Linked DNA regions of Homo sapiens. The protein of the gene in region 3 purifies or fractionates together with the protein of the main gene of each other region. This does not show direct contact. Each region holds a gene or a part of one and is shown on either strand. Other genes may lie near its edges.

Evidence for each region. Proteins that work in one complex are often made in the same cells at the same time.
Region 1: the proteins of EVA1C (region 3) and DNAJC1 purify together in Homo sapiens (affinity purification with mass spectrometry; 3 studies listed by BioGRID and IntAct, with this or other methods). This does not show direct contact.
Region 2: the proteins of EVA1C (region 3) and KIDINS220 purify together in Homo sapiens (affinity purification with mass spectrometry; 4 studies listed by BioGRID and IntAct, with this or other methods). This does not show direct contact.
Region 4: the proteins of EVA1C (region 3) and PNMA2 purify together in Homo sapiens (affinity purification with mass spectrometry; 4 studies listed by BioGRID and IntAct, with this or other methods). This does not show direct contact.

What each region holds. Positions count from the first base shown.
Region 1 is NC_000010.11:21,881,731-21,885,230, reverse strand, and holds part of DNAJC1 (dnaJ homolog subfamily C member 1 precursor), read left to right. Parts: intron 1-2,791; coding exon 2,792-2,949; intron 2,950-3,500. UniProt on the Homo sapiens protein: May modulate protein synthesis.
Region 2 is NC_000002.12:8,785,614-8,789,113, forward strand, and holds part of KIDINS220 (kinase D-interacting substrate of 220 kDa), read right to left. Parts: intron 3,200-3,500; coding exon 3,034-3,199; intron 745-3,033; coding exon 593-744; intron 418-592; coding exon 128-417; intron 1-127. UniProt on the Homo sapiens protein: Promotes a prolonged MAP-kinase signaling by neurotrophins through activation of a Rap1-dependent mechanism. Provides a docking site for the CRKL-C3G complex, resulting in Rap1-dependent sustained ERK activation.
Region 3 is NC_000021.9:32,510,206-32,513,705, reverse strand, and holds part of EVA1C (protein eva-1 homolog C isoform 1 precursor), read right to left. Parts: intron 1-3,500. UniProt on the Homo sapiens protein: Binds heparin.
Region 4 is NC_000008.11:26,507,537-26,510,872, forward strand, and holds part of PNMA2 (paraneoplastic antigen Ma2), read right to left. Parts: intron 2,142-3,336; 5' UTR 2,012-2,141; intron 1,708-2,011; 5' UTR 1,220-1,707; coding exon 125-1,219; 3' UTR 1-124.

The sequences.
Region 1 (3,500 bases), on a different chromosome or scaffold from region 3:
AATCTTTAAATTAGGATTGCAACCCCTGCTTTTTTCTGTTTTCCATTTGCTTGGTAGTTTTCCCTTCATTTCTTTATTTTGAGGCTAAGGGCATCGTTACTTGTGAGATGGGTCTCTTGAAGACAGCATGCCATTGAGTCTTGTTTTTTTATCCAGCTTGCCACTCTGTGACTTTTAAGTGGGGCATTTAGCACATTGACATTCAGGGTTAGTATTGATATGTGTGGATTTGATCCTGTCATTGTATTGTTAGCTGGTTATAATGTTGGCTTGTTTGTGTGGTTGATTTATAGTGACACTGGTCTGTGTATTTTTGTATTAGCTTATAGCAGTATTTCATTTCTGTATTTAGTGCCCCTTTATAAATGCTTATTTAAAAAGACATCACTTGCAGTTGTGATGAAACACCCCAGAAATAAATACAAACAATTGAATTTATTTGCTTTTTAAAAAAATAACTGATTCTCTATATGTAGCCCAAATTACTTCTGCTATTGCTCTACTTCAATGGTGATTTCATACTTCTCATTGTAAAAGCATCATCAATAATTATTCAGTCATTTCTCCTAATAGTGTTTACTGTGTTAATAGTTTCATCTCTCTATGAAGAAATAGTAAATAGTCATACACACACAAATACATACATACCCACATACAGTTATATTTGAGTACTTTTGTTTCTGGGAGAATTGCTGGGGAAAAGGCTGTATATGTTAATTTTAATGGATATGTTTAGACTGCTTTCCAGAAAGGCTCTAATAGAATAATACATTTCCTCCACCAATTTAGAAGTAGCCTTTTCCCTGCCAACAGTACATCTGAATTAGATTTTAAATTTGTACCCATATGATTGGTATAAAATTATATCTTGGTATTACTTAATTTGTATTTCTTTAACCTTTAGAGTGTATGAGCCTCTTTTCTTATTTGTTAGCCACGTGGGCACTCAATTGTGGATTGCCCATTTATGACCTTTTGCCTATATTTTTCTATTGGGTGGTTGTCCATTTATAAAATCTGTTTATAGCAATCTTCTGTTTATACTCTGAATTGGATACATCCTTTCCAAATCTATTATTTGTCTCTTGATTTGTTTACTCTTTTATCTTTTTTGTAACAGCATCTGGGTTTTCATTCTTATTTAGATGTCCCCTTCCTTTAAATAGTACAAGTAGATTTTAAGATTTCTTTTTGCAAAATTTTTATTGTTTTGGCTTTTAAAGTCAACTCTCTTCTCTATCTGGAATTTATTTGTGTATACAGTGTAAGAGTTTTCTTTTAAATGGATACTCAGTTGTGTAAGCATTACTTAATAAATTGTTTTCCCACTAAATTGAAATATAGACAATCCTAGACTTATAATGATTTGACTTACAATTTTTTGACTTTATGATAGTGCAAAAACAATACTGTACTTTGAATTTGGAATCTTTTCCTGGACTAGCAATATGCGGTAGGATACTCCCTCATAATGCTGGGTAACAGCAGCAAACTGCAGCTTCCACTTAGCCATATGATCATGAGGATTAAAACTGATCCTCTACAGTGTACTGTGTCACTATGTTATTTTGCCCAACTATAAGCTAATGTAAATGTTCTGAGTACACTTAAGGTAGACTAGGCTAAGCCATGAAGTTAGTTTTATTAAATGCATTTTCTAATTAAGGATGTTTTCAATATATGATAGGTTTATCAGGATGTAATCCCATAATAAGTCAACAAGCATTGGTATTTACAGATTCTCTATTCTCTTCTAGGAATTTGTCTATTCCTATGCCAGTATATACTGATTTTGTTACATTGGCAGTATAGTACATGCAAATACACACATACACACGTACACATGGGGTGGTGAAAATACTCTTATGAGGCTGAGTTTGACTATAGTAATTAAGAATGGAGTTGCTTCTCAATGTCAAGTCTCCAGTTAAAATGGTGTGTGTGTGTGTGTGTGTGTGTGTGTGTGTGTGTGTGTGTGTTTGAGATAGAATCTCACTCTGTCACCCAGGCTGGAATGCAGTGGTGTGATCTTGGCTAACCCCACCCTCCACCTCCTGGGCTCAAGTGAGTCTCATGCCTCAGCTTCCCAAGTAGTTGGGATTACATGCATGTACCACCACACGCAGCTAATTTTTGCATTTTTAGTAGAAGAAGGGTTTTGCCATTTTGCCCAGGCTGGTCTCGAACTCCTGGCCTCCAGTGATGCACCTGCCTTGGCCTCCCAAAATGCTGGGATTAGAGCCGTGAACCACTGCTCCTAGGCCTAAAATGGGATTTAATAAAGAGCCCAATGGATGGCCATCGATTCATAACTACTCTTGATGTTGCCAGATCATATTTCACCTTTGTAAAATATTGAAAAATAAATGTATACCATTTAGTGAGAGCCAGGTTTTTTTTATAGATGAGAAAGTTGATACTGTTCTAAGTGTTAATTTATTTGCCCAGTATTATTTACTTATTACATGGTAAAGTTAGGGTTACAATATTAAATTGAAGCTCTTTTTATTGTGCCAAAATGAAATATTTTATGAAAAGTACTTTGAAAACAAAGGTGTATGCAAATTGATATGATGGCTATCTCATGATCATCTCCACAATAGTAGCAACTCTGAGTTTTATTTAGAAACAATGCAATGGTTTATGTACAATAAAAGTTATAGCCAATTATTTATAACAGAACAATTATATTTTGATGTTTTCTTTCAGGATATGGTCTATGAATAAAATGTTAGAAATTAATTTTATTCTTTAAAAATCTCAATAATTGGTTCTTTTAAACATTTTTTAGAACAGAAGAAAGTTAAAAAACCAAAACCTGAATTTCCTGTATACACACCTTTAGAAACTACATATATTCAGTCTTATGATCATGGAACTTCCATAGAAGAAATTGAGGAACAAATGGATGATTGGTTGGAAAACAGGAACCGAACACAGAAAAAACAGGTAAATAAGCTTTATAAAACTTGTTTTGAGTAAAACATGTACAGAAAAGCACATAAAATACAGGGTTAGCTCACGATATAGTGCTTTGTTTTATTGCACTTCACAAATACTATTGTTTTGTTTTGTTTGAGACAGAGTCTCGCTCTGTCACCCAGGCTGGAGTGCAGTGGCGCAATCTCAGCTCACTGCAAGCTCTGCTTCCCGGGTTCATGCCATTCGCCTGCCTTAGCTTCCCAAGTAGCTGGGACTACAGGTGCCCACCACCACGCCTGGCTAATTTTTTGTGTTTTTAGTAGAGACAGGGTTTCACCGTGTTAGCCAGGATGGTTTTGATCTTCTGACCTCATGATCTGCCCCCCTCGGCCTCCCAAAGTGCTGGGATTACAGGTGTGAGCCACCGTGCCTGGCCGGTTTTTTTTTTTTTTTTTTTTTTTTTTACAAATTGAGGGTTTGTGGCAGCCCTGAATTGAGCAAGTTTACGGGCACCATTTTTCCAAAAGCATCTCCTTCCTTTGTGTCTCTATATAACATTTTGGTAATTCTTGTGGTAT
Region 2 (3,500 bases), on a different chromosome or scaffold from region 3:
AACAAATTAAACTAAAATAAATGCAACACTTTAACATTTAGAGAGTGTACTTCCTAAAGCCCAAATGAGCATGGCAGTGGCAACATATTCGCATTACAATTTTTTCTAATAACCAATGAGTGCTTACTTTCATGAATCCTTCACTTTTCAATTTGTGCAGTTTGGAGGCTGCATTATGGAGGCGTTTTCTTTGGGAATTCAGGAGCGAGTCCAGCACTTGCCACCATGTACGACAGTTCAACACAAAGGCCAATCCCACTACAGATGCGATTGATATGAGGACAGCATTTACAGTCAGATGCTTTGGGTCAACTCTAAATATAGCCAGAAGAGTAATTCCAGATATAATGCAGCCAATGATAAAAAGGAAGATGACAAAAGATGGGAGACAACATGTTTTTTTCCATTTCTTTTTACCTGTAATGCAACAAATGGTTTTAATAATTAACATATCAAGGATCTAGAAAATCCTAACATTATAGTCACAATACCTGATGAGTCTAATGTTCAAGGTGTGTTTTCATGAAAATAAACTGAACATCTATCCCACCCCCATCCCTTACACACAAAGAAGGAAGGAAGGAAATCCTACCCTGAGTATCTTCAGTCTTGAATACTCGAAAAAGCCTGGTTGCCAAAAAGCCAAACTCTCTTTCACAAGCATCCGAGAGGGTTGCAATCATTTCAGCCAGAGAAGTTTCTCCACCTACACTGGACAGTCTATTGTAATCTGTAAACAAAAACCTTGAAGAAAAGAACAAATCAAACATTACTTTATTATCTAAAGTAACAAATAACTTCAATGTATGTCATCTTTGCATCACTTACCCTTTATTTTCTTTTTGTCTCTTTCAAAATATTGTTTTTTAAATTCCAAGGAGGGAAAAGAATTTGTAATTAGGTAGCTTCCACTTCTAAAATCTTACATACTTTTCTTAGGAAAAAACAGTAACAAAAGTGAAATGTGCAGGGCCATATAAAGTAATTCTGACTAAGGACAGGCGGGGGAAAGTTACGCCAGAACTTAGATGTGGAGTATCAAGACACCCCAACAGATCTCACGACATAGTGGTTAAAAGGTGACACACGTGTCATGATGTGGCCACCAAGAGTTGCACAAGAAAGTTTTCTAACACCAACGAAAGAGACTCTAACCCTGAAAAAATATTAATTACAGTCATTAAAGAATTTCAAGCCCAGTAATACCATTTAAAAACTCAAGTTTTAGCATGGCTTATTTTATTTATAGCTTCCACGTCTACCAGGGATTGAGAAATAGTTGTAAAATATTCTCTTCACAATTGATCTTCAAAATTAAGTGAATTATTTGTATTCAGAGTCTCTGAATCATTATTATTTCTGTTAGTTCCTTTCTCCCTTCCATCTCTAAATTAAACTCTCATCTCAGTCCAGTAGATAAGCATTGCTCTCAGAATACAATCTGTAATATACTGTGTGGTCTTGACGATGCTACTTTAATTGTTCTAACTGAAAAAAAAAAATACCACCTCATTAATTTAGACTGGTTTCCTTATTTTCTGTAAAAATATTCCCCCAATTATTTTATTCTGTTTTCCTTTTAACTTTTTCACTTTTAAATCCTTTTCTTAATACTTAATTCTCTATGCTAGTTACTTAAAAGTTTTTACCTTTATTTTTCTCTTATACTCAGTTTTAATATTTTACCTGGTTTGGCTTATTTATTTTCATCTTAAATTACACTTATTTTTTCTTATAACTAAAAAATTTTCATCTTTTAATGCTTTTTTTTTTTGAGCAGGGTCTCACTTTGTCACCTAGGCTGCAGTGCGGTGGCGTGATCTTGGCTCACTGTACCCTCAACCCCCGAAGCTTAAGCAGTCCTCCCACTTCAGCCTCCCAAGCAGCTAGAACTACAGGCACGCACCACCACACCCAGCTAATTTTTCTATTTTTTGTAGAGATGGGGTTTTGCCTTTACCCAGGCTTGTTTTGAACTCCTGAGCTCAAGCAATTGACCACTTTGGCCTCCCACAGTGCTGGGATTACAGGTGTGAGCCACCACATCTGGCTTAATACATTTTAAATTCTTACATTGCTTACTTCCATTGAATTTCTTTTGCTTTTAACTTTCTAGCTTTTTTTTTTTTTCATTTCACTGTCCTCTGGAGCCCTCTACCTTTCCTTTATTCCTGGACTTAAACATTTTTCATCTTTTCTTTTTTCTCATAAATTTCCTACTTAATATGAATAATAATTTTAGACAGACATGTGAATATATTTCCTGAGCTGAGAAAAGCACAGCTCAGAGAGGGGAGCTGGGTTTCCCCAGGTTAACCGCTCACATAAGGAAGGGCCAGGTCTCCAGCGGGAAGCTCTCTGGGGACCAAGGCCAGTGGCTGGACCCCTCCTCCATCCAGTGCTCTCTTCAAAGTGTGTTCCAAAAGATGGTAACAGGTGACATAACAGGGAGAAAAGGTTTATGCTTAAATAAAATTTGGTAAATAAAAGTTAAACAGGTTTCTTTATGGAAAGGTGCCTCTGATCCTTTAACGTACAGGAGGGATATATAATCTGAAGTGTTTCCCACGGTATTTGACCAGGGCATGTTTTTATTTCTGTATGTAAAAGGTTCCAATGTTTTTTGGAACATACATTGAGAAATTATATTCTATAAACTTTTTTTTTTTTTTGAGACAGAGTTTCGTTCTTGTCGCCCAGGCTGGAGTGCAATGGCGCGATCCTGGCTCACTGCAACCTCTGCCTCCCAGGTTCAAGCGATTCTCCTGCTTCATCCTTCCAAGTAGCTAGGACTACAGGCATGCGCCATGACGCCCCCGCTAATTTTGTATTTTTAGTAGAGATGGGGTTTCACCATGTTGGCCAGGCTGGTCTCGAACTCCTGACCTCAGGTGATCTGCCCACCTTGGCCTCCCAAAGTGCTGGGATTACAAGCGTGAGCCACCACACCCGGCTCCTATAAACTTTCCGAAGTGAAAAATATTTTTTTCTGAATCTCATTGAAGATTTCTTCTGTCAAATGGTACAACTCACCTCACAGGTAAAGCTTTAGTAGTCTGCTCTGGCAACTCAGGTGGATTCACAAACATCAATTTAAGGAGGAGTTCCAAATATCCAATATGTCTTGCCAATCTAGTGCTGAGGACCCAGGCCCAATTCCAACTCTCTCCTTCTCTTCGTCCACCAAAGTAAATGACAACTGAAATTCACAGTTTAAAAAAGTTATCCAAAGCAGTCACTAGTCAAGCAGATCTTTTCTCCAAAGATCAAGTATCAAGTAATGAGAGCTAAGCTTACATAGCTTCCTATGGTCCCATACTATTTCCTAACTACTCCTCAAAGAATTCCATTAACCTCCCCTAAGATACAGAAGATATGAAAAATGAAAAGTAAACTGACTAAAACATGCCTTAAACAGAAACATAACTGCAGTTCAGATTCAAATGCAAATCATCTTGGGTTTATCACTATTCGCAACTGGTGAAGTTGGTTATCAGTTC
Region 3 (3,500 bases):
ATATATCTGGGCATGGTGGTGCGTGCTTGTAGTCCTAGCTACTAGGGAAGCTGAGGTGGGAGGATCACTTGAGCCTGGGAGGTCAAGATCATATCACCATACTCCAACCTAGGTAATAGTGTGAGACCCTGCCTCAAAAAAAAAAAAAAAAAAAGAAAAGAAAAATATTAAAATAAATAATATAAATATGTATATTATTTATAAATATTAATAATATAATAAGTATTGGCCGGGCACGGTGGCTCACGCCTGTAATCCCAGCACTTTGGGAGGCCGAGGCAGGAGATAACGAGGTCAGGAGATCGAGACCATCCTGGCTAACATGGTGAAACCCCGTCTGTACCAAAAGTACAAAAAAAAAACTAGCCGGGTGTGGTGGCGGGCGCCTGTAGTCGCAGCTACTCAGGAGGCTGAGGCAGGAGGATGGCGTGAACCCGAGAGGTGGAGCTTGCAGTGAGCCGAGATCACGCCACTGCACTCCAGCCTGGGCAATAGAGTGAGACTCCATCTCAAAAAAATAAATAAATAAAATAAAATAATATAGTAAGTATTATAATACTACTATAATGATATTATATCATTGTAAGTATTATAATACTTACAATAATATAGTAACAACTATATTACAATAATAACAACTATATTATTGTAAGTATTATAATGCTTATTATATTATTGTAAGTATTATAATACTTACTATATTATTGTAAGTATTATACAGATGGAAGCCTGTATACTGTAAGTAATATGCAGATCAAAGCTTCATCTCTCCCGACTTCACTTTCATCTTCCTCCCCTTTGAATTTCCCTCCTTTCCTCCCCATCCTGCAGCCCTCCTCTCCCCCGAAATCTTTGAGCCACTGTCCTCTCCAAACCCTCTCCTTCTGTGATGCTGTTAGGGCTTTCAAGGTGGGCCACAACTCAACTTCTCTGTCTTGGAAAATATAAACTTTGAGCCCCACTGCCAGTGATGCTGCCGACCTCAAGGAGTGCTGAGTGTGAGGAAGCTGAATCCCATCCATTTATAGTCTTTTCCAGCCACCCATGGTCAGGCCAGGGACAGATCTGGACAGAAACAATTCCATCCAGCTCAAGCCTCTGAGGTACAATGGTCATCCGTGGCCCCCTCCCCTCCTCTCCCAGTGGTGGTGTCGTGGGAGGGGCCGGGTACCCAGGGCAGACAGAGTAGGGTCACAGCAGAGCAATCAATTCCAGCAGTCAATTCCAGCAGCGACTTGAGCTATAAGTGAAGGAAGTCGAATGGGGACGTTTCAGGTTCCAAGAAGGGAGTAGGGTGCCACAGCCGGTAACTATGGACTTGCTACTGTACCTCTTTTTTCATATTTTGAGGATTCCTGGTGGACTGAATTAAATTACCCATAATCCTTAGGACATGAGACATTCTCTTCATTGGTCAATACATAGCCCTACTTTATGTCTAACGAATTACTTTTTAATACTGTAATTAGCACCAGTGCTATGAATGCACACCCGTATAGGAGCGAGGCCTTGACCACACCTGTGTCTAACCTGTGCTTCCCCATCCCCTTGCCTCCCCCTCAAGGTGACTACCACCTGAATTCCAAGCTCCTTACTCCCCTGTTTCCTTTTTTATATAGTTTTATTTTCCGTCTCTATGTATTCCTAAAATTTTATTTAAAGGGTATAATATTATAGGTAGTGTTGGAGACTTGGTGTTTTTTTTTAATTTAATATCATATCGCTGTAAAATATTTCACTGTCTTGGCTATAATGTAGTTTATTCACCCACTCTCCTGCTGGTGGGTCGGGAACTGTTTATTTGCCTGCTCTCCTGCTGTTGCCAGGTTTCTGCTTTTGTGGATGATCGTGAGCATTCTTGTCAATGTCCCTGGTCAACACCTGCAAGCGTTTCTCTTGGGTACTACCCTAGGAGGTAACTGATGGACTTAGGGCACGTGAGTTTCAATTTTCAGAACTACTGCCAACACGGTGTTCAAAGTGGCTGCAATGTGTGAGAAATCCTGTCAGTCCTCATCTTCTCCAGCACTTGGCTCACATAGACTTTTACATTATTTTCTAATCACATGGGTATAGAATTGTACCTTACGATGGTCTTGATTTGTGTTCCCCTGATCTGTACCTGTCTTCACATGCTTATGTATTTCCTCTTCTCCAAATGCTGGCTCATGTCATGTACCCATTTTTTTTCTGGGTTGCCTGTGCTTTTCCAGTTACATATAAAGGATGTGTATATTTTCTTTTTTCTTTTCTTTCTTTCTTTCTTTTTTTTTTTTTTTTTTTTTTGAGACGGAGTTTTGCTCAGTTGCCCAGGCTGGAGTGTAAGTGGCATGATCTTGGCTCACTGCAACCTCCGCCCCCCACCCCAGGTTCAAGTGATTCTCCTGCCTCAGCCTCCCAAGTAGCTGGGATTACAGGTGCATGCCATCACACCAGCTAATTTTTGTATTTTTAGTAGAGACGGGGTTTGCCATGTTGGCCAGGCTGGTCTTGAACTCCTGACCTCAGGTGATCTGCCCGCCTCAGCTTCCCAAAGTGCTGGGATTACAGGCGTGAGCCACCGTGCCTAGTCCAAGGATGTGTATATTTTCTATAGACTCTTGATGATAATCCTTTGACAGCAAATATATTGTGTATACATATAGATAGAGAGAGAGAGAGGGAGAGAGAGAGAGTCTCCCTTTGTCACCCAGGCTGGAGTGCAGTGGCACAATCATAGCCTGCTGCAGCCTTGAATTCCTGGGCTCAAACAATCTTCTCACCTCAGCCTCCTTAGAAGCTGGGACTACAGGCATGTACTACCATGCCTAGCTAACTTTTTATTATATTTTTTTGTAAAGATGAGGTCTGACTTTGTTGCCCGGGCTGGTCTTAAACTCCTGGCTGAAAGTGATCCTCCTGCCTTGGCCTCCCCAAGTGCTGGGATTACAGGTGTGAGCCATGGCATCTGGTGTGAATATCTCCTGGTAAGTGCCTTGTACTTTCACTTTCATTAAGATGTCTTTCAACCTTGTGAAATTATCTGAAAACCAGGGATGAAACACTGTTCTGCTCCATCTTCCCTGCAGGCACCTGGTCCCCATCCTCCTCTCTTGCCCGCCTTTTCTAGTGAATGGCCGGATAGGAACTATTGCAGGTTTATGGGCCATATGGTCTCTGTTGCAAATATAACAGCTCTGCTATTGTAGTGCAAAAGCGACCACAGACCATATATAAACCATCTTTCCTGCATGGCCTCTATAATCTTTAAGAAACACACATTGGGTCACATCACTGCCTGACTTAAAACTTATAGATGGCCTCTTCCCTCTCCTAAGCTATTAGGTTGGTGCAAAAGTAATGGCGGAAATCGGCCGGGAGTGGTGGCTCACACCTGTAATTCCAGCAGTTTGGGAGGCTGAGGTGGGCGGATCACTTGAGGTCAGGAGTTTGAGATCAGCCTGGCCAACATGATGAAACCCCATCTCTACTAAAAATACAAAAATTAAAATTAGCCAGGG
Region 4 (3,336 bases), on a different chromosome or scaffold from region 3:
AAGGAAGGAAGGAAGGAAGGTCAATAATTGGCTTTCATGGTTTGATTTCAGTCCCATACATTAAAGAAAAAAATTTTTTAAAGGTCTTAGCCCACTGGCTGTGGGTCCTGCCCCCAGGTGGTTTTCAGTCGTCTCCCTCATGATTCCAGCGGCCATAGCCATCTCGTTCCTCTGGCTCTTCGATACTCTCATTCTCAAAGGAGGCCTCTTCCTCCTCTTCTTCCCGTATTACCTTCATTAGCTCAAGGAAGCTGGGGGGCGGGCCCTGATCCTTCAGCTCCCTAAGCCGGCACCACAGCATCTGGTTAAGAGTGGCCCCAGCCATGACCTGCTCCAGGCGGACCTGGTCCGCAATACGCCGAGGGATGGCGCGTTTCTCCACCGCTCTCCGGAGCAGGGTTTCTAGCCGTAACACATAGGCTGAGACCTTCTCTCCTTCCTCCTGATAGGTCTTCAGATACCTCACCTGGGCTGTCCTGCGGCTCTCTAGGCTCCCAAACACTTGCTTAAAGGCCTCCAAACACTCTTCTACACTGATGGACGGGTTGTCTGCCTGCACTATGTGCATGAGGTCCAGGGCAGGGCCCCGCAGGCTTTCCGCCAGCCACCTTTTCTTTTCTGCCTCTGTTACTGGCCACTCTTTGACTATCTCCGTGGCCTGTTCCAACCAGACCTCAAAGGACTCTTCCTCTGGGGCTGGGACAGCACTCCCTGAGAATACTCGCAGTTTCCGGTATCTCATGGGTAGCAGGGGCTGAGGCGCATGTGCCATTGCCTGTCCCAACAAATGGGCCAGTAATTCTGGTGAGATGCAGGGCACTGTGGCTGGAGACACGCCCTCCTGCCCCAGGGCTCGAAACATACCCGAGACCGTCTGCCCCTCTTTTTCTAGAAACAGGTTCAATCTTTCAAGAAACTCAGTGTCCTGATTAGGGGTCTTAAAGATCACCTTCCAGACACCCCCCTTTCCCTGGACCTCACTGGGAATGGCCGAGACATCAGTATCTTCCAGAAGCTCTAGTAAGACAGCATTGGCATTCTCCTGCTTCCGGAATATCTTGCCAAGCAGTCTATACCTGCCCAGAGACTTTAAAGTCTCCTGAAGGACCTCCTGAATCTCAGCCTCCTCAAAGTCCGCCGGTATCCCCGTAACCATCAGTGACTTCTGCTCATCCACACTCATTATCCTGCACCAGTCCTCTAACAGTGCCAGCGCCATTGTCCTAAGAATTGACCCACTCTGACTCTACAGGCACCAATTTGTTAGTGGTGCAGCTATGCACTGACTTAATATTGAAAATATCCTGGATGAGCTTCTAACCTTAGAACCCACCAATGAATGGGTCCCAGACTAGGTCACTCAAAGACAGTCACAAAGTTTTCTGGACAAATGACCCTGGCCTACTCAGTGGCAAGAACTCAGGACTTCTTGTCTTTAGGCCTGACCCAGGTGGGCAGGTCGTATCTCAGTTCTAACCACACCTGTGCCCGCAGCTCTGAAGTCCGATTGCCAGTGATTTTCTCAAAGATGCTGGCAGCCACGTGACGCTGACCCTTCTCTGATAGTTGAGGCACCTGGGACAGCTGCTTTCTCCACAGCCTCCTGGTCTCTGATGTTTCGTCTCTCTCCAGTTGATGGGAAAATGCCTTCCACTCTGGGACCCAGAACTCTTGAAGAGAAGCCTCCCAGCAGGGCGGCTTGGACCCCTGGTGAAACAATGTTCAGTTTTACTACACAGCACTCTCTTTCCTTGGAAGCATCCATACTCTAATCTGGAATGGAACTGGGGGCAGATGGCGGTTCTGCTTTACACTGCGCTTGCATTTGTCCCACTCTGTCAGACCCCTTCTTTGCTCACTGTGACTTTTTTTTCTCTTGGGGACTCCAATGAAATCTGGTGTCCCCACCATATGCTCATCAGACCTGTTGATTAATGTCTGAGCCCCAGTTAAGGACAGGATTCAAGGTCTTTGCCATTGAAAGATGAAATCAGGAGATGTGGCTAAATACCTGTTGATGTGTTCCCGAGTGTTCCGCGAGAGGTGAGGAGCTTATTTATTCACCTTTTAGCACAGGAAGACATCACCCACCTCCACACAGTGGTGTGTCTGGCTCTTAGCTCCAGCCAAGCCAAGCTGCTCTGTTACACATAAACAATAAGAACAGGTATTTATGCTTCATTAATATTCAGTAGGAAGACCGTTAATGCACTTATTCAAAAATATGATAATCCTTCACAATACTACTCAATATTAAGTTGCTTTACCTCTTTGATTAACAAAACTAATGAGGAATCACTCAAACGTTTAAAAATAGTTTAATCTAGGTATAACAATTCAGGGAAAAAAATCTCAGGGCCGACTAAGTTAAATCGGGAATTATGAATTAATTCTCTTTTGTTGTGTCTGGAAGGCTTTGCAAACACACATTTGGGCTTTGCTTTTGCTATGAATGGTAAGTGAAATAGTTTGAAGGTTTGTCCCCTCCAAATCTCATGCTGAAATGTGATCCCCAGTGTTGGAGGTGGGGCCTGGTGGGATGTGTTTGGGTCATGAGAGTGGATCCCTTATGAATGGCTTGGTGCCATTCTTGGGGTAATGAGTGGGTTCTTGTTCTATTAGCTTCCTCGAGATCTGATTGTTAAAAACAGACTGCCACCTCCCTCCCCTCACTCTTGCTCCCTTTCTTGCCGCATCTGCTCCCTCTTTGCTTTCTGCTATGACTGGAAGCTTCCTGAGGGGTCACCAGATGCAGATGTCAGCACCATACTTCTTGTACAGCCTGCAGAACTGTGACCCAAATAAACCTCTTTTCTTTATAAATTATCCAGCCTCAGGTATTCCTTTATAGCAACACAAAATAGACTAAGACAATAAGTTACTAACACAACACTCTCCAAGCATTTGTTTCTGTTTCTGTTTTTTGAGACAGGGTCTCACTCTGTTGCCGAGGCTGGAATGCAGTGGTGTAAACACGGCTCACTGTAGTAGCCTTGATCTCTCCTGGGCTCAAGCAATCCTCCCACCTCGACCTCCTGAGTACCTGGGACCACAGGCACATGCCACCATGCCTGGCTAGTTTTTTAAATTTTGTGTAGAGACGCAGTCTCCTTACGTTGTTCAGCCTGGTCTCAAACTCCTGGGCTCAAGCAATCCTCCCGCCACAGCCTCTCACAGTGCTGAATTACACACTTGAATCACCACACCCAGCCTTTCCTAACATTTGAACTTTAACCCATCATTTGAGAAAAAAGAAAAAAGGAGGAAGCACACCTATCAAGGATTTTGTTCTGGAGAACCTGTGAGGATTAGAGAACGTAAAAAAGTTAGAGTTGG